4 linked regions of the Homo sapiens genome follow. The protein of the gene in region 1 interacts with the protein of each later gene in a biochemical or structural test. Each region holds a gene or a part of one and is shown in the gene's direction. Other genes may lie near its edges.

Region 1 (7,515 bases):
GTTCAGTTTTCTAGTTAGCAAAATACATAAGCCGATGCACTGAGGATTATTCAGTTCCATGCATACTGTTGGAATCATTTTGTGATTCAGACAAAAACACACAACTATAAAATCATATATCTGTACACGTCTGACTCAGTTCAGACACATTTATTTAGGGATTATCAGTTTTACAGAATACAACGGGTCGCTATTACTATTTTGGTTGTTCAGACTTGCCTAAAGCACGTCACTGTGCAGTTTGATATCATGGTGGATTTTCAAGCGGTTTATACCCTCCCAGAGTACTGCCTTATAAGGGAAAATGACTGTGTCAGGGTGGCAGTGTGCTGGACGAGGGGGCAGGAGGCCTGGAGTGTGGCCCCAGCTTTGCCAGGAAATAGGCATTTGACCCTGGGCAAGGAATTGATCCTCCCTGGGTCTCAGTTTCTGCATCTTACAAACCAGAGTTGGTCTGAGCCATCAGCTCTCTGAAGTTTTTTCCAGTTTTAAAATCCAATGTTTCATTTTCTCGTTTCTGACCACCAAAGGCAAGAAAAACATAGTCAAAGACACCATGGTTCCCATTGACAGCACTGGGATTGATTTTATACCTTGTTGTCAACCAAAAGTGCCAGTGCAGGGCAGCAGTGATCAGCGATGCCCGCAGGAGACCAAGACTTCCAGGGCCAGGGGACCTGCTACTTATTTATCACACACTTAATGACACGCCAGACACTGTTCTAAGTGCTTGGGAGACATTAACAGAGGGAGGCCCCGAGGGGCCCACAGGTGGCCTGCTAGGGAATGGCTGGGCGGGATTTGACCCCAGGCAGTCTGGGCCCACAGGCTGCCCTTCAGAGGTGAAGACGGTAGCCCTAGCTGGGTAACCATGTCTTCATGCCCACAGGGAGTGCAAGGGACAAAGGAGGCTGACAAGGAGCAGAAGGAATTAGAAAGGAGCATTAGCAACGTTTTTGACCACCAGCAGAATACCCTATCTGCCATTCCAAGGAATCTCACAGAAAAGACTAGACACTGGCCAACTCTTGCATAATCTGGGTCCACCCTGATGGAGCAGGAGGCAGCTCCACGGCCCCACATCTGCCTAGGATTCTTGGTAGCTGGGCCAGCCTGCAAATGGGCAAGGTTGGTTGGATTCGGAGGTGGGCGGAAGTGTGGGTTAAGCTTATCAAGTCCTTGACCCCAACATATATCAGTGAAATAGCCACCACTGCCAGACACCCCAGCAGGCCAGATGCAGGCGGCAGCTTACACATGAGGAAATGATTTCTATCTCTAGGTTCATTCTTTTCTTCCTCCACTCCTTACCAAAGTCTCACTGTGCATGTGATTTTAACTGAACTGTGCACTTCACTTTTACTTCTTGAGGGCGGGAACTAACTAAGCCTTAATCATATTTGTCTTCTCAGCATCTGACTCTGTGTTTGCTAAGTGAATGAATGATGCACTTCGGACCAAATGACGTCTGTTTAACTTGCAACTGGAAACCACCACAAACTGCCTGTTGACTACTGATTTGGATTTTAAGGTAAATACAGACATGTTTCTAAGGAGACGTTTTTGTGTGTGTTTTTTTTCAAAGGATGACTTCGTAAGCTAGCTAATCATTTCTCATAATTATGTCTGGATTCTAAAGAATTCTTTTTCTGCATTTTACTCTCTAGATATTTCATGTTCGTAACACATATATTCTACTGTAATATCCCTTTTCCTCCTCTCTTCTGTGAATGTCCCTCTTTCTTAAGGGGAAAGTGTTAACATTGCTCATAACTCAGTCTGCCATAGCGCATCTGATCACTCCACCCTGTGCACCTTCTGACTTTTAATTTCCTTCCAACACCCTCGACTTTTGATCTCCAAGCACAAGGGCTATACTTTTATTTATTAGGTTTAATTTACTGTAAAGCTCATTGTTCCCTGTGAATCGCACGATAACAGTCAATGAATAATCACTGGCTTCAGCCAGACTGCTTTTTAATTCTGCTGAGTAACTGGCAAGCCAACTAGTATTAAGGACAAAAATGTAAGGAACCCTGATATTGCCCCAGAACTAGGATAAGCCATTTTATTATGAACATGTGACTGCCCTCGTGCAGAGGTGGATCAGCTACAGGGCAGGACCCAGGGCAAGGGGGCTGCTTGGGGCAGCCTCAGACTCTTTGGAAGGGGAAATAGGGAGGACCAGGGACCTGGGTGGGAGGCAGGAGCTTAGGCTTACGATGACCCCAGCACACAGGCCCAGCTTCCTCTTCCCACAGCCTCCCTGCCGTCTTAGCTCTGCCATTTGGTCTTCCGGCCGGGATCCCTTTCCCAAGGCTTTCACACATTTAAACCCGCGAGGGGCAGGACTTTTTTTTTTTTTTTCGTGTATATGATAGTTTTTTCAAAATGTTTTCTATAAAATCCTCCCTGAGGAGAGCTTGGAAAAAGATTCTTAATAGCTAGATCATTTTGAGTCCTTCTCTACCATGTACTCAACACTCTAACATATTCTGCACATTTGGTTCTATGTCATTTGCCATAGTCTTAAGGACGTAGGTTCCATAATCATCCCTTATTCTGTAGAGGAGGCCCAAGGTTAGTGAGCAGAGGAAGGTTCCACTGTCGGGAACCGGTGGTCTTCAAACTCCTGTGCTCCTCTTTTGATATCTTTCTGCTCATATATGTTGGAAACAGCCCAGCATGAGCAAAGCACCACCTCCTAGCCCCCAGCCTGTGCCAGCCCTGCAAAGAGGAAATATGGCTCCACTCAGGGAGCCCATCAGCGACTCAGGGAGCCCTGGAGCACCTGGCACTCAGCACCCATGAACACGAGGGCAGGCATGGTGGGACAAGGCAGTCTGCTTGGGGCAAGTGAGCTTCGGGAAGTAGCTGAGCTTTGGGGAGCAGCTGTCTATACCCAGCTTCTCAGGGCTGTGCAAGTAGCCTGAGGGAGAAAGACCCTATATTAGCTGAAACTGCAGCCCAGATGAGTCAGTATTTTCTGCTACGGTTTTTTAAAAAAATAGTAACATACTCATGTCTCCATGGTAACTTACTATGGATCTGTATTCCATTTATGGAACTCTTTCTTGACCTATCTGTGTTCTCTAATCTGGGCCTGAATATACACTGAGAAGCCATCAGAATCAATTCAGTCTCCAAGAAATAATCACTTCCCCTATACGTGATTGTTTCAGCCGTATAGATTCTGACTGTGACTCATGCCACGGTGATACCCGGAGACCTTCGGGGACCCAGAAACATTAAGGTGCACCGATATCTCAATTATCCGGATAACTCTAGACCTAGAGTCACCATGGAAACCTAGAACCCTGAGTCACAGAGAAGCTGGGCCATTCCTCTCCCTTCCCGGTGGTGCCGCAGTTCTTGAGATGTGAGCAGCTTTCAGCCCCGTGGCCTCGCCTAAGCTGGGGTTTCCTATTTCATCCACAACTTCAGGAATCTAAACTTTCCTGCAAAATATTGAGCATGTGACCTGAGTCCAAACAGCCATGGACTCAAGCACCTTCTGATAAAAACGGAAACCACAGTGTAGGGGGTGGTTTTGACCAGGGTTTCGGAGTCAGATAAACTCAGGTTTCCACCTTGAATTTCTCATCAATCTGACGTGGCAGGTTATTCATCCTAAGGTTCAGTTCCCACCTGTGTAAAGTGGGAGCCGCAAGTCCTCCGAGAGTGACGATGATGTGCGTGGAGTGCCCAGCCCAGATTGAAGCGCGGCCAAGGCGGGTCGCTATCTGGGCACCGCTCAGCTCCAGAGGGCGCCACTCCCGCGGAGCCTGCGGGATCGGGGCTTCCCGGGAGCAGCGCGATCAGCACCACGACTCGGGGACACAGCCAGGGCCCGGTTTCTACAGGAAGCGCCTCATTTGGAGCCTTTTTGTGATAGAATGATCATTAGTCCTAAGCCCATTCAGAGGTTCAAGAATGGGGTCGGCTCAATTTCAGGGCCTTATTACCCAAGCCCGGCTGCCCTTCGGTGCCACCAGCACCACTGCTCCGTCGCTGCGGAATTCCAAAGGCAGGTTTGGCGTTAGGGCCTTGGCCCCAGAGAGGACGCCGAGCGCTCCACGGAAAGTCTCCGCCCGGCTCCCAGGGCGCACACTCGCGCGCACGTGGGGCCGAGGCCCTGCTCCCGGGGCCTCAGGGCCAGCCGGCGAGGGACCCAGCCGAGTGACAGCAGGAGGCGGAGGGAAGGTTGGGCCGGAAGGTGTCAGCCCCGCCCCGCGCTCCCTCGCCGCCTCCGCCCTCCTCTTCTCTCCCCTCGTGCGTTCCCTCTCCTCTCCCTCCGCTCCCCCAACCCTCCTGCTGCCCCCTTCCCTCTCCTCCCGCTTCTCCCCATCCTGCCTACCTCCCTTCCCCTCCTCTTCTCTCTCCTCCCCTTCCCTCCCCTCTCTCTTCTCTCCTCCCTCGTTTCCTCCCCTCCCCTCCACTCGGCCGTCCCTCCTTCCTCCTCCCTCCTCCCTCCTCCTCCCGCTCCTGAAGAGCGCGCCGCGTGGGGGACGGCCCGGTTACTTCCTCCAGAGACTGACGAGTGCGGTGTCGCTCCAGCTCAGAGCTCCCGGAGCCGCCCGGCCAGCGTCCGGCCTCCCTGATCGTCTCTGGCCGGCGCCCTCGCCCTCGCCCGGCGCGCACCGAGCAGCCGCGGGCGCCGAGCAGCCACCGTCCCGACCAAGCGCCGGCCCTGCCCGCAGCGGCAGGGTAAGAGCTGGGCCCGCAGAGAGCGCCCGGCGCGCGGCTCCAGTCCCATGGAGGGTCACCCGGGGCCTGGGCGGGGGTCGCGGGGGGCACTGACACGCAGATCTCGGGGCGCTGCCGGGGGTGCAGGTGGGGGTGGCGGCTGCTGCGAGGACTCTAGGGGCGCGCGTCTGAGTTCCGCGCCGGCTCGTTTTCCGGTTATGGAGTGGCCTCCGGGGCTGGCGGGGTCGGCCGGGGGGTTCCTGCGTGCTAGGGCCGCTGTCTTCGGGGTCGCCTAGCGGCGGGCGCGGCCAGGGCGCGCTGGCTTGTTTCGCTCGCTTTTGTTTTTAAAAGGAAACGCAGGCCTGGTAGGGGGTCCTGCCCAGTGGATGTCCCGGCGAACATGATTTCGCGAACGGGAGTGGGGGCACAGGAGAGCGTGTCCGAGGTGGCCTGGCGCCCCGGCTTTGAGGGTGACTTCCTGGAGCGGCGCCGGGCCCGGAGGATCTGGGGCGCCCAAGACACCTGAAGGCTGCGGCACCGCGGGAACCTGCGGGGCGCGGGGTGCCATGGTCACCTGCTCGCCGCGTCCAGGGCCCGGGCTGGGGACCCCTCGGTCGTGCGAGGAGAGCGTGGGGAACCTGTCGGAAATGAGATCTGGTTGCGCTGGGCTGCCTTTATTTTCTCGTTCCTACAGCATTTGAATGAAGAGGTAACTGAGTGTTTGCTTGTGTGTGTTTGGGTTGCGTGTGTGTTATCCTATTTTATTTTTTACGGCAGGAGACCTTTTATGTTAGCCTGTACACAATTTCAGGGTAGCCTAAAACAGTAGTTGACGCGCTAGTTATTTAGAAAGTAAAGAAATGAGCAGTCCCCTTTGGAGACAGGAGTAATTTATTTTAATTCGCCAGTAAGAGATTATATTTGTTCCATACAATGGAAGCGCCTGTGCGTTATCTGCCTGCCCACACCACCACCAATCAGAGAGATAAATCTCCACGTTAAGCTTTATTAAAATTCTGAGTAGTAGCGCAGCACAGTAAATGTTAGCACCGACCATCCGCAGGGAAATGCTCAGATACTCATTTCTGGGATTAGTCATTCATCTCTCTAAACTGATCGCTTTCAAAGCGAAAAAAGCAAACTACCTTCAAATGTGTGTTACAAGGTTGTGTTGTTTCTTTTTTTTGTTTGTTTTCAAATTTATCTAAATAATCTTACATAAGTGATTACTTGTTCCAATAAGGGTACTGTTGTCAGGCAAATTCTCCTTGTTTTTAAATGTAACCATTCTCAGCTGTTACATTTCTGCTCTTTATCCTTTTTTTTTTTTTTTTTTGGTTTAAAAGCAGCGATCCATCAGCAACACCAAACTTGAAATTGATTTATGTGGAAAAACTTGGCTTGTCTGCCATCTAACAAGCCCTGTTGAGTAAAATAAGCAAGCTTAAATTTGATTAGTTGTGTGTCTGCCTGAAACCATTTAGTAGAGCACTTTAATTCTGCATGGTTTTTACAAAACTCATTAAAAGCTGGACAACAAAAGAATTCTATTCTGTAGCTAGTAATTACAGCTCTTTATGTGGGAGTGGTAGGCTGCCTTTTCTCCTGGTATTTGTACACAAAAGCTGGGGAGAGCTTTTCCACTGCCTTCCACATTCATTCTCTGTCCATCTCAGAGAAGCTGAAAAACAGAATCAAGTCAGCAAGCAGTCTGCAAGCCTAAGGAAGAAAAAGAGCTGACCCATCCGGCTCTGGATGGATAACTGGCAACACCCAAGATGTCTATGATTTTGGCCTTCTGTTTGAGGCTTGTTTATTTCTTTAATCAGCAGCTACCAGGACTTATTTCATGCAGAGAAATGACATAAAGCTCTAGAGGAAGGAGCATTTCACATTGGAAGGAGTAGTGAGAAGGGCCTGATCTGATAATATCAGGATGGGTGGGAAGGGTCCATTCCTCATCATTCATGTTCTCCCGGCACAGAGGACTGTGTGGAGGACTCAGGATTTAGGACCATACTCAACTGGGGTTTGATCTCCACTTTGCCCTGCGGTGGCCCCTCTGGTAGCTATGTGGATCCTGGGCAGATTGTCCATGTTGCTGGGCCTCCGTTGCTTCACTGTATGACGTCTGCCTCTCAGGGATGCAGGAAGATTCAATTAGGTAGGAGTGGATGGTCCCCCAGCACGGGGCTTAGCTCTTAGTAACTAGGCATTCTGGCAATGGCAGCCATCAATAGGAGAGACTATTGATTGTTGAGTGAATATAAGTGGCATAATCCACCAAGTGGAGATTCTGAGTGAATGTGGCCACTTTGGACCCAAGACTGCTGCCCCTCTCTGTCCTCTCATAGGACTATTATTTATTGCCAGTGCTGACCAGCCTTTGTTGGCTACCATGATCATTACCTGCACTCCGAGTGTTTTAACAGAATTTTCTGATGCCTCTGGCCTCACCTGCTGCCTTTTAGCCAAGAGGGGTGTGTGTGTATGTGTGTGTGTGTGTGTGTGTGTGTGTTGGGTGTGTGTTGGGTAGCAGGGTTCTTGGAAGGTCTGGTTTAGCCATAATGTTGATCATAAAGAGAAAACAAGAAAATAAATGCAAATTAAATAGTTCGGTGAGCCTTTGTTATTTCGCCACATCCAGTAAGTTCTATCAGTTGAATGTTGTCTGAATTACTTAAAAAGTTCTCAGTTGTAAACAGGTAAGAGCACCCAGTGGAGGCCATGGAGCTAGGCTTAGAGCTTTGCCACCAGCCTTCAGTTCCATAGCCATGAACCTGGGAGGGCAAGGAATCACCCTAGAGGTGAAGGCCATTCATCGGTGCT
Region 2 (7,437 bases), on another chromosome or scaffold:
GGTGGGAGGATCGCTTGAGCCCAGGAGTGGATGTTACAGTGAGCCAAGATGGTGCCACTGCACTCCAGCCTGGGTGACAGAGTGAGCCCTATCTCAAAAAAAGGAAAACAGGGACCAGGGAGACAGGGAAAAGGTTAGAATCACAATTTTGAAGGAAAGAAGGCACACACATACACAAACATCTGTTTTTCATCTTGTGTGATGAGTTGCCCTTGAAAAGACAGGATCCTACTTTTCCTTAAATGTTTTGAAGCATATTAACCTGAGTATGGGAGGACCTACTTCTAACAAATACTGTACATTCATGGACAGAAGTGGGGAACTGAATTTCAGAAGCCACAGCTATGGAGCCCTGAAGAGATGCCCGGAGCCTGGGTTTCAAGGCCCACAGGCACTGGAACTAGGCCTGGCAAGCACTGTCAGCTCAGCTCCTCGGTTGCTGTGTAGTAAAAAGCTGCCACTTAAGTATTGGAAGAATCATGGCTTTCAATGGAAATGGATTTCTTATACTGACAGTTTCTCCTGGAGAACGTCTTGCTCTGTTGTCCAGGCTGGAGTGCAGGGATGCAATCATAGCTCACTGCAGCCCTGACCTCTTGTGCTCAAGCCATCCTCCTCCCTCAGCTTCTCGAGTAGCTGCGACTACAGGAGTGAGCCACCACATCTGGCTATTTTTTTTTTTTAATTTTGTAGAGATGCGTCCTCGTTATGTTGCCCAGGCTGTTCTCGAACTCCTGGCCCCAAGTGTACCTCCCGCCTTGGCCTCCCAAAGTGTTGGGGTTATAGATGTGAGCCACTATTCCTGGCTGAAAGTTTTTTAAAATTAAAATATGGATAGTAGCAGTTTCAGTCTGAGCCACAGAGGGTGGCAGCATCAATGAATGGTAACTGCTGTTACAGAGTTCGGACCACAGCTTTCTAGTTTCAAAAACATGATTTTTAAAAGCATCCACAGGTGACTGGAAATCCTTAAGCAACATTAATAAACTTGTTATATAGTAACTTATATGCCAGAATGTTAATCTAATAGAGGAGAAGATAAGGAGAAACCACAACCATATTCAAAACATCAATATCTAATACTAAAGACTACGGAAAACTGTTATCAGAAGTCAGAAAGGCATGGAATGAAATCAAAGAACATTGTATAGTCTTAGAAAATATTTCATTGGGGCAACCCGTTCGGGTCCCCTTCCACGCTGTGGAAGCTTTGTTCTTTCGCTCTTCACAATAAATCTTGCTGCTGCTCAAAAAAAATATGTAATATAATATATATATTTTATATATATATATTTTATTGGTCTCTGAGAAAGTCTCCCTTTGCAGTACGAACTAACCTTGTGGAGTGGCTAGATCATGACTGCTCACTTCAGCATCTGTCTCTTACTGAATGTTTCTTATCCTCTTGCTTTCTTGGGGGTCTGAGGATGGGGGGCTGTAGCATGTGTAAGAGATGACACTCACTAGACACACATTTTTGAGGGCTGCCCCGCAGCAGGAAGCGGCTCTGGAGGCCATGGGCCAATGAAGGTGCTGTGACGTTTACACTCACAGCCATCTGCAGCAGTCCACACTTTATTACAGTTACAGTTAACATTTTCTTCCACAGTATTTCCTGATAATATTTAACAAAATAAATAATGAGACTAAACCCTAACTCATGTCAAATGAGTTTGAGCAATTATTACCTTACACACACTATACTGTCCCAATAGCCAGGTAATGAAATCTGATCTGGACACTCATTCTAGAAAATAGAGCAGTGCTGTCTGATTGGGGGCGGGAGGAGTATTCCCACGTCTTGGTCCTGCAGAGACAGCTCCCCGACAGCTCTGAGAAGCCCCAGGGCTCAGTGGCACCCGCTTTGAAACTCACCAATGCAAAAAGGAGAATCAAGAAGTAAAAATCTGTCTGTATTCAATTGTATAAACAGTATAGCTTTGTCATGTAAGATACTAGCACAGCAATTAGTTACTGGTCTTCTGGGCTTCCTCCAAACCTCAAACCTTTGGTCCCCAGACCCACACACACACATTCATTCAGCTGAGGGGCAAATGAGATAAATCAAACTGTTTTAATGGCCTCTTGGTATGCATTTCAAGAGAGTTGACATCAACCCAATTTTCTGCCAGCAGTGTATATAAGCGTTCATTTCGCTAACCATCAGTAGCATTATCACTGGAAAAGAATTCTGTCCTTTGAAGAAAAGCAATGTTACGTTGTTTGAATGTGTCATTACTAGTGAATTAGAATAGCTGTCAGTATTTATTAATAGTTTTATTTCTTCTATTGTACATTATCCATGGCTTTTGCGTTTTATGTGGGGAGGGATATTCGTATTCATCTTAGTGGATAAATACCACCTTACTTGGAAAATAGAGCCAAGGGTTAAATTCTAGGCAAAACCAACAGGAAAATCAGGGTAAGTTATCTAACTTACATTAGGTTGAATGAGAGATGGTATCTGCGTATAAAATTTTAAATGATCCCTACAAAGTATAACTGGGAAAAAAATGTGGAGTTATGCTGCCACTTCTTTCCTAAAAGGTAAGCTTCCTTTTATTGATACGATGTTGTCTTACTCGAGTGCCTTCTCTAAAATACACAGAACCATGCAGTCCTCTATTTTACAGATGAAGTAACAGACTGTTTAAAAAGGTGACTCACTGAAAGCTCTTCATTGTTGGAATTCCTGGCCCAACATTCAAACCAGGCATGGCTTGCTTTTCTTCTGACACGTTTTAACCCCTCTACTAAATTTTTAGCGATATATATTTACTCTTAAAATGAATTACAATTATTCTGTGATGTTCTTTGAGATAATCAAAAACTCTCTGGGATGTATCAGATTGAGGGCTGTGAATAGCATGAAAGATTGTGTTTATTTGACTAGTGTATATCACAGACCTATTCAAGTACCACCCATTTCTAAATTCTAACAGTCTTAGAAACCAGCTGTAGAAGCAGATTGATATATTTTATCAGAATCCCCAAATTCCTACAACCGTCTCTTCCTAATGACTTTTCAGGTGGGGACACGTGCCAAGACGGCCAATAGATACCTGAAACCCGGGGTAGTGCTGAACCTTACTTACACTACGTTTTCTCCTATACACACCTGCCTATAATAAAGTTTAATTTAGAAGTCAGGCACAATGAGAGATTAACAACACTAATAATAAACCAGAACAATTATAACACTATACTGTAGTAAAAGTTATGAGAATGCGGTCTCCCTGAAAACACCTTGCTGTCCTGTACTCACCGAATTTCAGAGCAGAGGACTCTGACTGACAGGTGTTCCCCGACTCCCAGTGGCGAAAGGTCCTCAGGGAAAACAGGTGAACGCTATCAAAGTATGCTTATCTCCGAACCTTTCTTAAACCAGAGTCTTAAGGGATCGTCTCTGATTAGGTCTAGAATTCCTCTCCATAGAAGATAACCTACTTCTCGCGCAAATCTGCAGTGTTCTTGCAGGGCTGCTGATGGGTGGTCCTGTTCTTTTCGCGGTCCTGTTTGCGCAGAGATGAAACGGGGAACTTAGCGTATCCCTACCGCTCTTTTTGATGACAGGAGTAAAGGGCTGTTCAGACTACCTAAACAATGTTGTTAAGAGAAGCACTCGTACTTCTCAGACTTCGCTGTTCCGGACCCCGCGAGCCAGGGGCAGGCACCGGGTCCACCCGGGGCTGAGCTGCGGCGGCGCCTGACAATGCCCCCTCGCGCCCCGGCCTCGGCGCCCGCTCCCGGCTCCAGCGCGCCTGCACGTACGTAGCCTTCACGTGTGTGTGGATACGGAGTGCATGTGTGGAGACAGAGGAATATGCTCCAACAAATTTCGGATAGAGGCGCCGAAGACAGGACGTGGGGAAGGTAGGAGCCGCGTGCACGGCTCCGGCCCCGGGCGGGAGGCGGCCGCGAGCCGGGCCGGCCGCGCGCAAGTCCGGCGCCAGCCGCTAGAGCCCCCAGTGCGCGGCCCGGCCGCGGGGCGCCTCGACCCGACACAATAAACTCCGAGGGCGGGCGGGCCGAGGGGCCGGTGGGGCCGAGCGGCCGCCCCGCGCGCATCGCCATGTGAGCGGCTGCCGCGGCTTCGCGGGGACCCAACTTTCCCGGGCGGCGGCGCCCAACTTCCCGCCGCCCGCTCCGGCCCCGCAGGCCCGCGGCGCCAGGGGAAGACGCGAGTAAGTGCGGGCGGCGGTGCCCTCCCGGCCCTCACCCCGCACGCGGCGACCCGGCCGCCTAGCCTCCCTCGCTCAGGCGCGACCGCGGCGTTCTCTGAGGTGGAGTATTACAAACATGGCGCCCCTCGAGCCCGGAGCCCTTCGCGCGGAGCCGGCGGCGGGGTCCGGGCGGGGGGGAGCCGGGGAGGAGGGAGGAGGCCGGCAGGGAGGAGGAGGAGGCGGCCTGAGCGTCCCCCCCGCCCCCCGCGCCCGTCGCCGGCTCAGGCCCGAGAGGCGCCGGGCGGCGGGAAGGAGGCGGCACCGGAGGGGAGGGCCGGGCGCGGCGGCGGCGGCGGTGGAGGAGCCGGAGCATAATGGTGGGGAAAGCTCGGCGGCGGGGCGGCGGGGCGGGCGGGGGCGTCCGTGGAGATGGCGCGGCCCGCGCGGTGGAGCCTGCCTGGCCGCGGCCTCTGGGGCGGCGGCGGCACCAGTGGGTGCTGACGGTCGCTCGCCCGCTCGCGAAGAGCTCCGAGCTGCCGGGGAGCTTTGTGGATGGCGGGGCGGGCCGGGCCGGCGGGGCCTGCGAGGGCGGCGGCGGGGCCTGCGGAGGCTGCCGGCCCGCGCCCACTCGCCTTGGGCGGCCGCGGAAGAGGCCCCGGGATGAGGCCCCGGAGGACCGCGCGGGGCCTGCTCGGGCCGGGAAGCCGCGGAGTCGCGTGAGCACCGCCCGCCGGGCCCTGTGCCCCGCTTTCGGTCAGGCCTCCTGGGCCCGTGCGCAGTCCGGGCCGGCGGGGAACGCGGCTCCGGGCGTGTGGCGGGCGGAGAGGAAGCGTTTGTCGGCGCGGCACGTCGTGTGCTAGCCCGGGAGCGGCGGGCAGGGCTGGCCCCGAGGCCCGGGGCGGAGATTCGTCGGTCCCCCGGGGCTGTGAGCGACCCCGGCAGCGAGGCCGCCGCCTCAACAGGTCCTCGCGGACCTCCGGGACAGTCCTGTGGGGTCCGCCGCCCTCCTCCCACCCAGAGCTCCGGGGAGAAGCTGCTGAGGACGCGGCTGGGACGAGGGGGGGCGCCGGGACCCGGACTTTCACTTGCAGTCTCTCCTCGCGCTTTTCTCCCGAGCCGGGAGGAGGAGGAGCTGGCGATGTGTGCGCCGTGCCCGGTGTCTTTTGCAGAGTGACCGCCGTACCTGTTTTATTCGTGTGTACCAGTGCTCGTTGTGCAGTGCGGTGTCCTATGCGGTGGGTACGCAGTACCGGGGATTATATATGGTGTGTACTCTGTGTCATATGCAGTGTGCTCGAAGTACCCGGTGTCGTACCGGCTATCATACACGGTGTGTACATGTATCTTCCTCGCTTAGGCTGTGCACTCAGCCCCCGGTATTGTGTGCAGTAGGTGCCTGGTACCCTGCTGCCATATGAGCTGTGCGTGTGGTACTCCATGTTATATACGAGTGTATGTAGTATCTGGATAGTATTGAATATATTTACCTTACCTGTTGTCACATACAGTGTGTATGTAGTACCTGGTGTCATATATGCGGTGTGTATAGTACCAGGTGTCATATACTGTGTGCACACAGTACTTGGGGTCATATATGGTGTGTACATAGTATCCTTTCACACTGTGTATGCAGCACCCAGTGTCATATACAGCCCTTACGCGGTTCCCGGTATTTTGTGCAGTATGTGCACGGTACCGTGCTGCCATATGCGGTGTGTATGCAGTATTCAATGTCATATACGTTAGGTATATAGTATCTGGTGTCATATACAGTGTATATACACTACCTGGTGTTATCTATGTTTTGTATATATATCTGGTGGCATGTACAGTATGTATACATTACATAGTGTTATATATGGTGTGTAGGTAGTACCCAATGTCATATGCCATGCATATATGGTACCCAATGTCATATGCACCATGCATGCACTATCCTTGTCACATAAGCTGTACTCAGTGTCAGATGCAGTGTGTACCTAGTACCGAGTGTCATATGTACTGTGTACACAGTACCCACTGTCATATTCAGGGTATCTAGTACCCTGGGTCATATACAGTGTGTACATGGTATCTGGTGTCAAGAATGTGAGCCTGGAGGAGATACCCAGGTGGCCCATTCAGGACCCTGCTGGTAGGAGGGAGTGGTGCAGGTTGGGTTTTTAGGGAGGTCTAGAGCCCTTGGTCCTCCTCACTTAGGTGTTCTGCATCCCACAGTAAGCTGAGTCATATGGAGGCAAGAACATTCTTAAAAATAATTTAATCTGTTTGTCCAAAAGCAGAAAGTAAATGTTTACTTGTTTTCCTGTAAACTGAGAAATATAGTAATTTTAGCTTAGTAATTATGGTGTGCACAACGTTTTCAGATTTTTGAGGTTGATTTTAATTAATGGTTGGATGTTATCAGGGAGATAGTGTTGGTTGTACTTTGAAAGTTGAAAAGTTAGAGTGCTTTCTGGTAGGCAGGGTCATCTTTGTAGTTTTTCTGAATGTCTTTTTACAAGCAGGAGAAAAAATATGAATGTCTGTAGAGGCATTTAATTTGCCTTGTCTTTGACTAACTGGCACAGGTTACATTATAGTTGTTATTTTTGGTTGACTCATCTTTATAAGATGACCAGGCTAGAGAATCAGAGATCAGAGGATATGGGATGTGATTATGACAGAATCAAAATATTTGTCTTGCTTGACTCTGTTACTTAAAGGATTTCTGTATTTCACATGGTGCTTTTCCCCCATAGAGATTGCTCATATGAAAACCAACTCTTCCTTTTACAGTCTCTAAATTGGACAATTTATTTTTGCAATTACCATTTGTGAGGTGTTTAAATAAATGTACATGTACGAGCTTCCAGCTTCACAAAAAGAAATCAATTAAAATGTTAAAATTTAGTTCTTTCATTCATACTGAATACCATTCTGTTGGCGTTTTTTTTTTTTTTTTTGAGATGGAGTCTTGCTCTGTCGCTCAGGCTGGAGTGCAGTGGTGTGATCTCGGCTTACTGCAACCCCTGCCTCCCAGGCTTAAGCGATTCTCATGCCTCAGCCTCCCGGGTAGCTCGTACTACAGGCATGTGCCACCACACCTGGATAATTTTTTGTATTTTTAGTAGGGGGCCGGGGTGGGGGTGGTTTGCCATGTTGGCCAGGTCTCAGACTCCTGGCCTCAAATGATCCACCTGCCTTGGCCTCCCAAAGTGCTGAGATTACAGATGTGAGCCACCGCACCCGGCCCTGTTGGCGTTTTGAATGGATGTCATGCATGTTTCAATGA
Region 3 (7,609 bases), on another chromosome or scaffold:
TGTGAGGAAGATTTGGAACATATTTCTGTTTTCTTTTTTGTTTTTTATATTTTGCTTGGGTAGCATATTTCTTTCTGATTTCTCCAAAAATTGGGAACTATCTGTGAGCACTATTTAAAAAAAAAAAAAAAACTTTTCCCTCTCCCTTCCCCTATTTGTATTCTAATGTCAATATAATGATGTGTGCACGTGCAGTAACAATCTGTTTTCTCTTGTAATAGGACATAGAGACACTGCATATTTTACCAAGGCTTTGACTGGAATGGCATGCTTTCAAATATAAACAGACGGCTTTAAGGAATCAGAGTTGACCTATAGTGCCCATCAAAGCCCTTGGGAAAACTGGCTTCATACTGTATCCACCCAGTGGATTCTTCTTGCCCAGATGGAGCCCATGTATCAAGGTAGGGAAACTGCAATAGAGAAAGGGTTTAATTCACACAGAGACAAGTGAATGGGAGACCAGAATTTGATGATTACTGAAATCAGTCTCCCCAAGAATTTGGGGACTAGGGTGTTCCAAAGGTAGTTTGGGGGAAGGGGTGGGGTAGCTTGGCAGTGGGTGCTTGCTGCTGATGGGTTGTGGGGGCGGGGGGCCATCGTAGGGTGTGAGACAGGATCCTCCCGTGTGCTGAACCGCTTCTGGGTGGGGCTGCAGGAGTAGTTGGCAGGTCCAGGTGGAGCCATCATCAGTCAGTGGGTCCTGTTGGAGCCGTAGGTATCAGACATGCAAAAAACCCTTGCGAGGTACTGCAAAAGGCCAATCTTAGGTTACAATAGCATTGTTATCTGCAGGACCTCTGGAATAATGGCTGATAATTGTTTATGTCTACATCTTAGCCAAATTCAGGCTCCTCTCCTCTCCCTAGCCTGGTGGCCCCTCATTAGTTTTACAAATACAGTTGAGTTTTGGGGAGGGGCTATTATCATGTAAACTATAAACATCTCCCAAAGCTAGCCCAAGAATAACTGAAGGCAGCTTGAAGGCTAAAGGTCAAAGGGGGTTTGGCTACATCAGATCTTCCCCAATTGGCATAATTTTCTCAATGATACAATTTTTGTGGCCGGGCTCGGTGGCTCACGCCTGTAATCCCAGCACTTTGGGAGGCCAAGGCGGGCAGATCACGAAGTCAGGAGATTGCAACCATCCTTGTCAACACAGTGAAACCCCGTCTCTACTAAAAATACACAAAAAATTAGCCGGGCGTGGTGGCGGGCGTCTGTAGTCCCAGCTACTTGGGAGGTTAAGGCAGGAGAATGGCGTGAACCTGGGAGGCGGAGCTTGCAGTGAGCCGAGGTCGCACCACTGCACTCCAGCCTGGGCGACAGAGCAAGACTCCGTCTCAAAAAAAAAAAAAAAAAAAAAAGCCTACATGGTAAATATTTATTCTTGCTACAGTTTATACAAATAACCAGGCCAAGTACAATAAGACTAAAACTTATTTTGAAAACAAATCAGTACTACCTGATTTCACTTTGGTAAAAATAGGAGACTAGAGAGAGAAAAATTATGTTTCAAAATAAACTATAGTATACCTGTTATTAGATTCTAGCCTTGCCTAAGGTTTTTCAACTTTTATTATTTTCTCTTTTTTTGTTTGTTTATTTGTTTTTTCAGACAGGGTCTCACTCTGTCACCCGGGCAGTGGTGTGGTATCAGTTCACTGCAACCTCTGCCTCCTGGGTTCAAGTGATTCTCGTGCCTCAGCCTCCCGAGTAGCTGGGATTATTGGTGTGCACCACTATGGCCAGCTCATTTTTTTGTATTTTTAGTAGAGATGCGTTTCACCATGTTGGCCAGGCTAGTCTCGAACTCCTGACCTCATGATCCACCGGCCTCGGCCTCCCAAAGTGCTGGGATTATAGGCATGAGCCACTGCGCCGGGCCAAAGCCGTGCTTTTCTTAAAGCTCTGCGAACGAAAGCTAGACAACTTAAACCTCAGAAGAGAATAATGGTACCTATTTATATACATAAACCACTTTCACGCCTGCCTGCTGTGTATGGACTTCAGAGGAACACAGCCTACGTCAGTTTTCTAGGATTGTTCTCTCCACGTGCTCTTTGTTTTCTTTCTTTCTTCTTCCCTCTATTTTCCTCCCTCCCTCCCTTCCTTCCTTCCTTTCACAAAGTCTCACTCTGTTACCCAGGCTGGAGTGCAGTGGCACGATTTTGGCTCACTGCAACCTCCGCCTTCCGGGTTCAAGCGATTCTCCTGCCTCAGCCTCCCGAGTACCTGGGACTACAGGCAACCACCACCACACCCAGCTAATTTTGTTAGTTTTAGTAGAGACGGGGTTTCACCATGTTGGCCAGGCTGGTCTCGAACTCCTGACCTCAAGTGATCTGCCTACCTCGGCCTCCCAAAGTGTTGGGATTATAGGCATGAGCCACTGTGCCTGGTCACAACACCTGCATTTTCTTTTTTTTTTGTTTTTTTTTTTGAGACAGAGTCTCACTCTGTCACCCAGGCTGGAGTGTAGTGGTGTGATCTTGGCTCACTGCAAGCTCCGCCCCGTGGGTTCACACCATTCTCCTGCCTCAGCCTCCCGAGTAGCTGCAACTACAGGCACCCGCCACCATGCCTGCCTAATTTTTTGTATTTTTTAGTGGAGATGGGGTTTCACTGTGTTAGCCAGGATGGTCTCTATCTCCTGACCTCGTGATCGACCCGCCTCAGACTCCCAAAGTGCTGGGATTACAGGCATGAGCCACCACGCCTGGCCAACACCCCCATTTTGTATACCACACTCAACTCCCCCATTTTCTACATGCTGATCAAAACCAATCTGAATGGAGTCTAGGTCTGGCTGTGGGCTGTTGGGAAGAGGCCCCCAAATCTGGCCATCAACTGGCCGCAAAACTGGCCATAAACAAAATCTCTGCTGCACTGTGACATGCTCATGATGGCCATGACTCCCACACTGGAATGAGGGCAAGGAACACCTGGCCCACCCAGGGCGGAAAACCGCTTAAAGGAGTTCCTGAACCACAAACAATAGCATGAGCGATCTGTGCCTTAAGGACGTGCTCCTGCTGCAGATAACTAGCCAGACCCATCCCTTTATTTCCCGTAAGAAGTGCTTTTAATCTATAATCTATAGAAACAATGCTTATCACTGGCTTGCTGTCAATAAATATGTGGGTAAATCTCTGTTCGAGGCTTTCAGCTTCGAAGGCTGTGAGACCCCTGATTTCCCACTCCACACCCTATATTTCTGTGTGTGTTTCTTTAATTCCTCTAGCGCCGCTGGGTTAGGGTCTCCACGACCGAGCTGGTCCCGCAGTGGGCAGTGGTTTGGGCCCGACCGAGCTGGTCCCGCAGTGGGCGGTGGTTTGGGCCCGACCGAGCTGGTCCCGCAGTGGGCGGTGGTTTGGGCCCGACCGAGCTGGTCTCGCAGTGGGCGGTGGTTTGGGCCCGACCGAGCTGGTCTCGCAGTGGTTTGGGCCCTGCTTGCTCGACTGGATTTCAACAGTGAAGCCAGATTAGAGGACATGCTGGCTGCCCCGATCCTGGACCTGGACCAATGGTGCTTCCTAAACATTCCATGTCAACTTTTCTTTTTCCACCTTCCAGGGCTGGGCTGTGAAAGAGATTGGAGAGGCAGGTGCCTGTGAGAGAAGCTTCTACCAGCCTGGGAAGTCAGGTCTTCCATGAGTGAGGGGAGGTATCTACTTTGCCAAACCTTGTTAGGGAATGCTGACATAGCTGCCTCTTCCTGCCCAGAAGCTAAGCTTGAATGCCACCCCTCACAGAGCTTCTCTCCTGTCTTTCACTCACTCCTGCTTATTTCTGTGACAGAACTTGACAGCATGGACATTGCCACTTGCTTCCTTCAGTCTCCTGGAGTCCCCATGTCCTGAACACAGAGGAGGCACCCAAATGCTTGCTGAAGCCACATCCCTGGACCAAGTGACCTGACCCTCACCTGGAGGACCTTCACCTTCACCTCTCACCTGGAGGACCCTCTCACCTGGAAGACTCTCTCACCTGGAGGACCACCCCACCTGAAGGACTCCCAACTGGAGGACCCTCTTACCTGGGGGACCCCCTCCGCTGGAGGACCCTCTCACCTGGAGGACCCTCTTACCTGGAGGGCCCTTCACCTGGGGGACTCCCCCACCTAGAGGATCCTCTTACCTGGAGGTCCCCTCACCTGGGGAACCCCCCCCCCACCTAGAGGATCCTCTTACCTGGAGGGCCCTTCACCTGGGGAACCCCCCCCCCCCACCTAGAGGATCCTCTTACCTGGAGGACCCCCCACCGAGAGGACCCTCCCCCCCCACCTGGAGGACCTCCCCACATGAAGGACTCCCACCTGGAGGACCTTCTTACCTGGGGGAACCCGTCTCACCTGGAAGACCTTCACCTGGGTAATCGCCGTGGCCTCCCACTACGGCGCAGCCGGGTCGGCTGCCCGGGCTTCACCCTAAAATAAGGCCCGAACTGCAGCAGTCGGAGCCGATCCCTGGAGCCCAGCGCCTAGGGCGGACCCGCGGGAGCGTCTCTTGGTAACCGTTGCTAAGGAGAGGAAGCCCGGGAAGGAGCTTTCGCGCCTGCGCCGCGGGGCCGTCCGCGTCTGCGCCTGCGCGCAAGAGAGGCGGGGCCAGCGCTCGGCATGGCGGAGCCAGATCTGGAGTGCGAGCAGATCCGTCTGAAGTGTATTCGTAAGGAGGGCTTCTTCACGGTGCCTCCGGAACACAGGGTGCGCGGGGTGCCACCCGGGCAGCTCTGCCCGCCTCGCTAGCGGCACTGCCCGGCTGGGTCTGGGGAGCCTCGTGTCGCGCTGCCGCGCCGAGGCTTCCGGCACGGGCGGGAACGACAGTCCCAGAGTTCCCCGCGGCGGGGGCGGAAGCCGGGGCGGGGCGGGCTCAGGACCCCCGACAGCCGGTCCCTGGAGATCTGAGGGGCCGGGGCGGGCTCAGGGATGCCTCGCGCCCGCGGAGAGACGGGCCCGGGACTTGGGAAGAGCAAGCTCCGGGATCCAGCTCGGGCGCTGCTGGGTTCAGCGCCCGAGCTGGGCTTTGCAGGCTGAGCCGCGAGCCACTTGTTTGTGGGGAGAATTTACACCCGCGACGAGTTCGAGCTTGAAGGCTCCCGCTGGGCTTGGGCTGCATGGAGCGGGGTCCAGCGCTGCCTGGCGGCTTCACGCGAACCCTGGGCGCGTCCCTTGCGGAGGTGCCGGTGCCTCCCTCTGCAGAGACCAGGAGAGAGCCTCTGGGCGTTGGGCGGTGTTGCCCAGGTGCACGGCTGGTGGGGGTGGAGAGCCCTGAACTTTGGCCGCTGGTTTGTGTTTTTAACTGCTGGCTGGTGCTCTGAGAGGCCAAGCCACGTGTTCAGTAAGAATCATTAACAGATCGTGGCTGGATGACAACAGGAGCCACACTTTACTCATCCAGACGTGCAGCAGGCGCTCACCGCGTTGAGAGCCGTGTGCTGGACTCTGGGGTGAAGTAGTGAGTTGGCCTTTTCTTTTTTGTTGTTTTTTTGAGACAGGGTCTAGCGCTCTCGCCCAGGCTGGAATGCAGTGGCGTGATCACGGCTCAGTGCATCGTCAGCCTCCTGGGCTCAAGTGATCTTCCTGCCTCGGCCTCCCAAGTGCTGGAATTACAGGCGTGAGCCACCGCCCCCAGCCTGGCCTGGCATTTCTTTGAGTTCAGGAAGTGTGACAAGGATTTGGACACCCAGAAATAAGCGTGTCGAGAAGAGCACAAGCAGAGGATGTGAGAAGGGGAATTAAGGCGGGAAAGGGAGTTTGAGACTAGGCCATCAGTGAGTGACAGGCCAGATGCTTCTGACTCGGTCCCCAGGTGTCAGGAAGGAATCAGACTGAGGACAAATGCGGCCAGTGGCTCACACCTGTAATCTCAGCAATCTGGGAGGCTGAGGTGGGAGGATTGCTTGAGCCCAGGTTTGATACTGAGGGTTAAGAGAAGGGAAGCCGGGAAATGGGGGCTGTGAGGTTTCAAACCTTGCTACGTGTGCTTTTTTTTTTTTTTTTTTTTTTGAGACGGAGTCTCATTCTGTCACCCAGGCTGGAGTGCAGTGGCGCAGTCTCGGCTCACTGCAAGCTCCACCTCCTGGGTTCACGCCATCCTCCTGCCTCAGCCTCCCAAGCAGCTGGGACTACAGGCGCCCGCCACCACGCCCAGCTAATTTTTTCATATTTTTAGTAGAGACGGAGTTTCACCGTGTTAGTCAGGGTGCTCTAGATCTCCTGACTTCGTGATCCACCCACCTCAGCCTCCTAAAGTGCTGGGATTACAGGCGTGAGCCACTGCGCCCGGCTTACATGTGCTTCTTAGATCCATGGAGAAGGATACAGACTCTACTAGTTCAGAGACCCCAAAATACAGGGCCTCAAGATGATGCCTTTTTTCACTCTCCCCTAACATTCTGGAGAGAAGCAGTTGTTTTGCACAGGTGGGTCAGGCATTCTGGTTCCATTTTTTCTTCCCGTCACTGAGGTGAGAAGAGGTGAAAGCTTCCTTTCACCTGGAAGTCACACGGTCCCTTCAGCTCACATTCCAAGGCCAGATGCCACTGGGTAGCGTTTCATAACTTCCAGGAGGTAGTGATACAGGGATGCTGGGACAGCAGCCTCTGCCACAGATGTATTTTTGTATGTGGGATTGAAAGGGAGTATCTGAGTGGCCGCCTCTGATATTTCTTTCAAAGCATTGGCCCAGTATCGTCACCACCTTTTCTCATCAGAAAAGCCCAAGAGGCCGGGTACGGTGGCTCACGCTTGTAATCCCAGCACTTTGGGAGGCCAAGGCGGGCAGATCACTTGAGGTCAGGAGCTCAAGACCAGCCTGGCCAACATGGTGAAACCCAGTCTCTACTAAAAATAGAAAATTAGGCGGTTGTGGTGGCACCTGCCTGTAATCCCAGCTACTCAGGAGGCTGAGGCCGGAGAATCACTTGAACCCAGGAGGCGGAGGTTGCAGTGAACCATGTTCTTGCCACTGCACTCCAGCCTGGGCAACAGAGCGAGACTCAGTCTCAAAAAAAGAAAAAAAAAGCCCAAACGTGTGGTTGCCTTTCTGTTTGGTGAGCAAGACGTGAGTGGGCTCCCTGGTACAAATTCCATTTGAAATTTCCTCAGTTGTTCCATCAGCTGCCAAATTTCCACACTGGCAACACCCTTCTGTTTCAGCTGGGACGATGCCGGAGTGTGAAGGAGTTTGAGAAGCTGAACCGCATTGGAGAGGGTACCTACGGCATTGTGTGTGAGTGGCCAAGGCTAGGACATGTGGCCGCAGCTCGTGGCTGTGACAGTGTGGGACGAGACTGTCGAAGCAGCAGCCGCGTTGGGGCTGGAAGGGACTCAGACCCTGTGCTCTGAAACAGGGCAGAAACCTGTTCAGGAACTTCAATTCCTGATGTAGTTATCACAAACATTGTACCATTTCTGGGTAAACGTAAGCATCCGGTTGCTAATGCCCATAATCCAAACGTGTCACTGCAGAGTACACAGAACTGTTAGAGAAATAAAATACAGAACTTTCCAGAAGCAGCAGGAGCTGGACATGGTGCTCATGTCTATCACCTCAGCAACTCTGGAGGAGTCACCTGAGCCCAGGTGTTTTTTCTTTTTGTTTGTTTT
Region 4 (7,087 bases), on another chromosome or scaffold:
CCGCCCGCCTCAGCCTCCTAAAGTGCTGGGATTATAGGCATGAGCCACCGCTCCCGGCCTCCTCCTATATCTCTTGATCAAACTTCAGGGGAAAACCTGCCAGATTCCCCAGGAAGGATGCTTGGAGGTAGGTGGCAGGGTACAGGGAGGCCTATGCCAACTTCTCATTGAACACCACTCCCAGCTTTCCTACCCCCATTTCTCTTCACAGGTGTGCAGAGAAGTCTACATTCCCATGTCAAGTAAGGGGGGTGGGTAGATGGGAGGGCATATGAGAGCGGGGCAGCAATTTTATGTCTGAGTTGGAAGGAAGTTTAGAGTTCATTGAGTCCAAATCCTCTTTACTAGGTGAGGAAACTGAGGCACAGGAGGGGGAGGTGCCATTAGCCAGGGAGTCAGAGCCAGGACTTAGAACCTGGTCCATGCCTCCTAGTTTGTTCCTGACCAATCCTCCCAGCTCACCCACTCCTTTTGCTCTCACCTCTGACTCCCTACAGGCTACAGCTAGAGAGTTGACTCCTCTATTTGAGGTAAGAGTGTCTGGATTTGGGATAAGGTGACCTCAGTTTGCAGGGCTCATGGGGGAGATCAGAGGGTCCTTTGTTGAGAAGAGGGGACTTGGTCCACAGTGAGCAAAGGAATTTGTCTAAATTGCTATTAAGGGAGATCATCTCCCAAGGTGGGCCAAGCCTGAACCCTCAGCCCTCCGTTTCTTCCCTTTCTTTTGCCTTCAGATTGACAGGCCTCGGAAGTCAAAATAAGTGGTTTCCTAGACCGGGTCGAGAGCAAGTCTCTATTGGTCCCAACTGAGTTTTTTCAGCTGGTTTTTCAACCAAACAGCACCTCATCTCCCAGTGAGGGGAAGGGAAGGCTGGGCTGAGAGCAGCAAGGCTGCTCATCTCACCTCTCCCCACCCAGCCATGCCAGCCGCCTCACCTGGTGGGGAGAGGTGGGCCTCACCTGGGTCCCCTGGCAGTGCTCTGTGAAGGGTCTTGACATTGCACTGTAATAATAAAGGTGTGTGTGAAGTATCTTTTTATGGTGACTTTCTAAAACCCAGGGAATCATGGGACCAGTTCTGATGACTCAGCCTGGCTTCCAGTCTCCTCCAGGCCCAACGGTGGCCCCCAGCACTGGTTGGGGCCTGGGAGAGCTGGCCTTGGCTGAAGTGAAGCCACCTACCCTTCAGGCATAACAGGACAGTGAGAAGGAAGGAAAGCCTGCCTCAACCTCCCATCAGCCCTGAGCACCCCAGAAGGGGGCCGGCTAGGAGTCTAGGCATGCAGGAGGCTGACCCCTGACTGGGCTCATATCCAGCCACAAGGCAGCCAGGGATCCAGGCACCCACCCCTTGTCTGCGTCCCTCTCGGGAATGGGCCTCTTGCCCAGGCCAGAAATACACCACCTACAGTACAAATTATAATCTAAAAACAAGAGGGTGGTGTTGAGTGGGGAAATTGGGGAAGGTGTTTTAGGAGCCACTAGGAAAATGGGCAGCAGGGACTCTCTGGACTGGCTTGGGAAGAGCGCTTTTGGGGAACCTGGAGGATGGCAAGCTGAGAAACACTGGTGTGGAGATTCCAGCCAAATCCCAGGCCTGCCCCTCCCCCTCCTCTGAGAGGCCGTCTTCTTGGCAGACAGCAGAGAGATGCATGACAAAGGTGCCGTGATGGTTCTGTCCTGGGGATTGAGATGGCTGGGGAGGGGCCTCCTCCTGTTCCGAAGCATGTTCCTCCCACCCCCACCAGGCCCCATAATCTACCTGCCTTTTGGGCAGTTAAAGGCCGAGAAGTGAACACAGCTGCAACCCCACTGCCTTGTAGACCTTCCGGCAGACCTGTGGCAGGTATTGAAATGCACGCATACAATTAGGCTCAAAAAGTCTACACAGACAGGAGATGGGCACACGAACAGAGGCAACATAAGAGTGGGGGAAAAGTCTCAAAAGACTCACGGATGCCACCAAGATGAAGACAGCTGGCCACGGGACACCCATCCCCTTAGAAGGCAGATAGAGCCACTGACCCCAGCAGACAAGCCCAGGCAGGGCTGAGCCTGGAGCCTGCAATGAGAAGCCTTACTTAAGTCGACAGAGGTCAGCGTGCCCAGTCCAGACCTGGCCTTCTGGCCTTCGAAGCTGTGGGGAGCCCTGGCCCAGAGCCCCCTCTGGAGCCCCCAGACTTACCCCAGGCCCTCCACTGAGATCAAGTTTTGGGAGCAGACAGACAAACATCATCCCTCACAGACAGGCATTCCGTTGGCTATTCTCTTGCAAACAGAATCAAGCACTAGACCAGCAGCATGAGCCTCAGGATACTCAGGCCAGGCCCAGAAAAACAGACCCTGAAGGGGAGCTTAGGGCAGCCTTCCTGCACGCCTCCACAAATCACTCTCCACCTCCTCTGCGTCTTTCTGCCAGCCAGCCCCACTAAACAAAGCACATCCCTCAATCTGCCAGGCTCGGGGAGGGACGCACGATGAAGCTGGACGCCTGAGTCCCCCAGAGGAAGGAGGAACTAGATACCTAGGTCCCTGTGGGGGGCCCTTGGTGCCCGTCTGAGGCTCAGTCTTTGAGGGGATTGCAGAGGGGGGTTGCTGGAGCTCCTTTTAGCGTCTCTGAAGGGGATTCTGTGTGAGGGGATTGGGACTGGGGGGTTGGGGAGCAGGAAGCAGTCCCCAGGGGAGCCATCCAGGCCCATTCAAGGGTTGAGCACTTGTTTAGGGTTAGAGCTGCCCCCTCTGGGGACCGGGATTGTCCAGCCAAGGCCATTGTCCTGCCCCCTTCCCCCAGTCCCTCCCAGGCTTCTTTGAACCTGAAGTCAGATATTTTTTCTCCACACCCCCCACCCCCTGGTTTTCCCCACCCAGGGCCTAGGGCTGGAGGCCTGGGCCAGGGAGGTGGGGGAGGGAGAACGGGGCCTACCGTGGTATTAGATGTCTGAGTTTTGGTTGAGAGGGGAGCAAGGAACCTGATGTGCAGGTTCCATAGTGGAGGGGGCCCAAAGCGGGTGTCTTATCACTCTGTTTCAGCAAAGGTTGGGAAACTGAGGCCCAGTCAGTCCAAAGTCTGGTCCCTTGAAGGGGAAGTAGGGACCAACCCCTTAGTCTGTTAGATGAGGAGAGTCTGGAGTCTGATTCTGGAAGACGGAGGGGTGGGGGGATGGGGGGGTGGGGGGATATAGCACGGAGGCCTTGTCTGGCAGTCTACTCTTGAAGATGGGGTGAAATTTGGCAGGCTGGGCAGATGGTGCCAGGCACCCAGGCTGCGGGGTGGCTGGATTTGGCCAGTATCGGGATGGGAATGCCTAGGATTCTGGATGGATCGGGGGAAGGCATAAGGGAGCAGCTGGCCATTGTGCTTATGGCTGTTGATGCATTGAGGGATAGCGCCACACACACATTCAATAAATTTGAGGAGCTGAGAGGGTGACTGGCCCCTGAAGGCACAGTGCCAGAGGTCTGTGGAGAGGGGGTCAAGCACCTGGGTTCCTGAAGAACATGGAGGTGTGGGAGTGATTCCAGACAGCTGGGATGTGCAGAGCCTGAGAGAGTGCCAGGGAGCGGGTTGGGAGTTGAAAGTTGGGTGTGGTGGCTCACGCCTTTAATCATGACACTGGGCGGCAGAGGCGGGAGGATTTCTTGAGGACAGGAATTCAAGACCAGCCTGGGTAACATAGCAAGGCCCCATCTCTACTAAAAATAAAAAAACTAACAGGGCACAGTGGTCCAAGCCTGTAGTCCCAGCCACTTAGGAGGCTGGAGCAGAAGGATTGCTTTGGCCCAGTAGATCGAGGCTACATTGAGCCATCATTGTACTCCACTGCACTCCAGTCTGGGCAACAAAGTGAGACCCTGTCTTAAAAAATAAAAATAAAAAAAGTTTCTGTGGGGGACCTGCACTGAGGTCCTGGAGGGGCGCCAGTTGTGTCTCCCGGTTTTCCCCTTCCACAGACACCATTGCCACCACCATTAGGCAAACATCCTTCGCCTCAGTTTCTCCCCCCACCTCCCTCTCCTCCACCCATCCAGGGGGCGGGGCCAGAGGTCAAGGCTAGTGGGTGGGACTGGGGAGGGAGAGAGGGGTTGAGTAGTCCCTTCGCAAGCCCTCATTTCACCAGGCCCCCGGCTTGGGGCGCCTTCCTTCCCCATGGCGGGACACCTGGCTTCGGATTTCGCCTTCTCGCCCCCTCCAGGTGGTGGAGGTGATGGGCCAGGGGGGCCGGAGCCGGGCTGGGTTGATCCTCGGACCTGGCTAAGCTTCCAAGGCCCTCCTGGAGGGCCAGGAATCGGGCCGGGGGTTGGGCCAGGCTCTGAGGTGTGGGGGATTCCCCCATGCCCCCCGCCGTATGAGTTCTGTGGGGGGATGGCGTACTGTGGGCCCCAGGTTGGAGTGGGGCTAGTGCCCCAAGGCGGCTTGGAGACCTCTCAGCCTGAGGGCGAAGCAGGAGTCGGGGTGGAGAGCAACTCCGATGGGGCCTCCCCGGAGCCCTGCACCGTCACCCCTGGTGCCGTGAAGCTGGAGAAGGAGAAGCTGGAGCAAAACCCGGAGGAGGCAAGTGAGCTTCGACGGGGTTGGGGTGTGGGGAGGTGGTCATGACAGGGCAGCCTGATGGGGAAGTGGTCACCTGCAGCTGCCCAGACCTGGCACCCAGGAGAGGAGCAGGCAGGGTCAGCTGCCCTGGCCAGGGAGGGGTGTGTATCAACTGCTGGCAGCCCTGGCAGGCAGGGGCCAGGTGGGAAGTGGAAGCTGGATTTCGAAGAGACAACTGCCGGTGAGGGCAGAGCAGCCTGGGAGAGTCGGAAGCTGGCCCAGGCTGGCCTTTGCTCTGGCCCAGCCCTTGTCAGGGTCTCTCACATCTCCTAGGCCTGCCCAGGGTCTGGTCACTCATTACTGGCCCAGCACCAGACCCAGCTTGGGGTTGGTTTGAGCCCCTTTTCCCACCCTTAGTCCTGCTTGAAAATTTGACCCTTATCAGACCCAAGATTTTGGCCTTAGGGTTAAGCATAGCCTGAGGGTAAAAACAGTGCTCATTCCAGGATTATTGTTCCTGAAAGTCTAGGGTGTGACTCGTTTCTGATAGGATCTCCTGTTTGGGCTGTGTGTGTGCGCGTTGTGAGCTGGGTTTACCTCCAGTCAAGTATAGGGCTTGTCTTCCCCGGATCTCTGCCTCAGGCCAATGACTGGCCACTGTGTTAAGGTGCACACCCTGGCACCCCTTGTAGAAAGCTGGATTTTGATTGACTTCAGCCTCAGTTCCAAAGTTGTAAACAAGAAAAATGGTGAGAGATTTCTCCAGGCCATTTGCAAATATAGAGCTGCTGCGGGATTGAAGGCATCCAGCCCTGCTGAGGACTATTAAAGATGTATCTTCCAGTCCTTCAAGGCGACAAGTGTAAGCAATTAGAGATTAAATACTAAGCCTTGAGACCTCACAGAAAGGTGTGACTGGTTTCTGGAGTGACCGAGAAGCCCCAACCTCTTCGCAGGAGGTCACTGCTGAGCCTTGAATGATAATGGCTGGCAATTGTGGTCCACTTCCTAAGTGCCTGGCTGTGTGCTCCGTTTATACATCATTATCTCATTAACCAGCACAAAATCTCCTAGGGGGAGGTATTATTATCCTATTTAACGGGTTTTAACTGCTAAATGATGAAGCGAGGATTTGGACCAGTGTTTATTCCAAAACCCCAAAACAGAATTTGGAAAATCCAAGATAGCAGAGGGCATTTATCAGTTTGAGTTATTGGCTGAGCAGAAGTTGGGGATGAAAACAGCCTATTTGAAATTGATATGATCAAGCACCATTGAAACACTTCCTTGAGGCTTCAGAACTACAAAAAGGCCTTGTTTTTTTCTCACTAGCTGTGCACCTCTGTCTGCCGGCAGCCTCATATGGCATGCCCCAGGGCTCAGTCCTTCAACCTCTGCTCTATCTACCCTTCCTTCCTCTCACCCACCCTCAAGGCTTAAATGCCATTTAGACACCAGATGACTACCGCGTTTTCTGTCTCTTGTGATGGCTCCCTGAACTGCTCCACCCTGATCACCCAGTTGCTCAAGGCCAAACCCAGTCATCCTCAGTTTCTTTCATGTCCTACATCCTATCCTTAAGAAACATCCTGAATCAATCACAACCTAACCCTGGCCTCAGCCACCATCATCTCTGCTGGGATTACCGCAGTAGCTTCTCAAATTATACTGCTTCCTCCCTACTGTCTGTGGCCAACACGTCAACTAGAGTCAGTGTTTTAAAAGGTGTGGCCAGGCACTTTGGGAGGCCGAGGCAGGCGAATCACCTGAGGTCGGGAGTTCGAGTCCAGCCTGACCAACATGGCGAAACCCCATCTCTACTAAAAATACAAAATTAGCTGGGCGTGGTGACGCATGCCTGTAATCTCAGCTACTCAGGAAGCTGAGGCAGGAGAATCGCTTGAACCTGGGAGATGGAGGTTGCGGTGAGCCGAGATCGCGCCAGTGCACTCCAGCCTAGGCAACAAAAGCGAAACTCTCAAAAAAAAAAAAAAAAAAGGTGAGGCTAGGTGCGGTGGTTCACACCTGTAATCCCAGCACTTTGGGAGGCCAAGGTGGACAGATCACTTGAGGTCTCCTGACCAGCCTGGCCAACATGGTGAAACCCCATATCTACTAAAAATACAAAAATTAGCCGGGCATGGTGGTGGGTGCCTGTAGTCCCAGCTACTCAGGCGGCTGAGGCAGAATAGCTTGAACCCAGAAGGCGGAGATTGCAGTGAGCCAAGATCACGCCACAGCACTCCAGCCTGGGCGATAGAACGAGATTCCGTCTTGGTGGGGAGAAAAAGGGTGAGAGATCATTTCGCTTGGACTAAAACAAAGTCACTATGTCTGCAACAGGATCTACCTAGCCACCAGACCAGCTTTGGGCTCTGGAAGGCCCACTTCAGGGCCTTGCCACATTAGACTCTTGTCCTTTGCTCAAACAATCACCTTCTCTGTCTTTAAAAGTGTCACCCTCCTCCATAATCTCCTTCCCTCCTTTACCCTACTCCTATAGACTGCTTTATTTTTTTTTTAATTTTTGAGATGGAGTCTCACTCTGTCCCTCAG

The links.
Region 2: the proteins of ETS2 (region 1) and ZMYND11 form a complex in vitro, tested with the Homo sapiens proteins (2 studies listed by BioGRID).
Region 3: the proteins of ETS2 (region 1) and CDK10 form a complex in vitro, tested with the Homo sapiens proteins (one study listed by BioGRID).
Region 4: the proteins of ETS2 (region 1) and POU5F1 form a complex in vitro, tested with the Homo sapiens proteins (one study listed by BioGRID).

Annotation. Positions count from the first base shown.
Region 1 is NC_000021.9:38,801,414-38,808,928, forward strand, and holds the start of ETS2 (protein C-ets-2), read left to right. Parts: upstream 1-4,515; 5' UTR 4,516-4,557; coding exon of another isoform or gene 4,558-4,707; exon of another isoform or gene 4,708-5,395; intron 5,396-6,023; exon of another isoform or gene 6,024-7,515. UniProt on the Homo sapiens protein: Transcription factor activating transcription. Binds specifically the DNA GGAA/T core motif (Ets-binding site or EBS) in gene promoters and stimulates transcription.
Region 2 is NC_000010.11:131,020-138,456, forward strand, and holds the start of ZMYND11 (zinc finger MYND domain-containing protein 11), read left to right. Parts: upstream 1-4,435; 5' UTR 4,436-4,540; intron 4,541-4,578; exon of another isoform or gene 4,579-4,653; intron 4,654-4,789; exon of another isoform or gene 4,790-5,398; intron 5,399-7,437. UniProt on the Homo sapiens protein: Chromatin reader that specifically recognizes and binds histone H3.3 trimethylated at 'Lys-36' (H3.3K36me3) and regulates RNA polymerase II elongation. Does not bind other histone H3 subtypes (H3.1 or H3.2).
Region 3 is NC_000016.10:89,682,093-89,689,701, forward strand, and holds the start of CDK10 (cyclin-dependent kinase 10), read left to right. Parts: upstream 1-4,596; 5' UTR 4,597-4,618; coding exon 4,619-4,705; exon of another isoform or gene 4,706-5,242; intron 5,243-5,397; exon of another isoform or gene 5,398-5,456; intron 5,457-5,543; exon of another isoform or gene 5,544-5,723; intron 5,724-7,159; coding exon 7,160-7,232; intron 7,233-7,609. UniProt on the Homo sapiens protein: Cyclin-dependent kinase that phosphorylates the transcription factor ETS2 (in vitro) and positively controls its proteasomal degradation (in cells).
Region 4 is NC_000006.12:31,167,681-31,174,767, reverse strand, and holds the start of POU5F1 (POU domain, class 5, transcription factor 1), read left to right. Parts: upstream 1-4,085; 5' UTR 4,086-4,147; coding exon 4,148-4,552; intron 4,553-7,087. UniProt on the Homo sapiens protein: Transcription factor that binds to the octamer motif (5'-ATTTGCAT-3'). Forms a trimeric complex with SOX2 or SOX15 on DNA and controls the expression of a number of genes involved in embryonic development such as YES1, FGF4, UTF1 and ZFP206.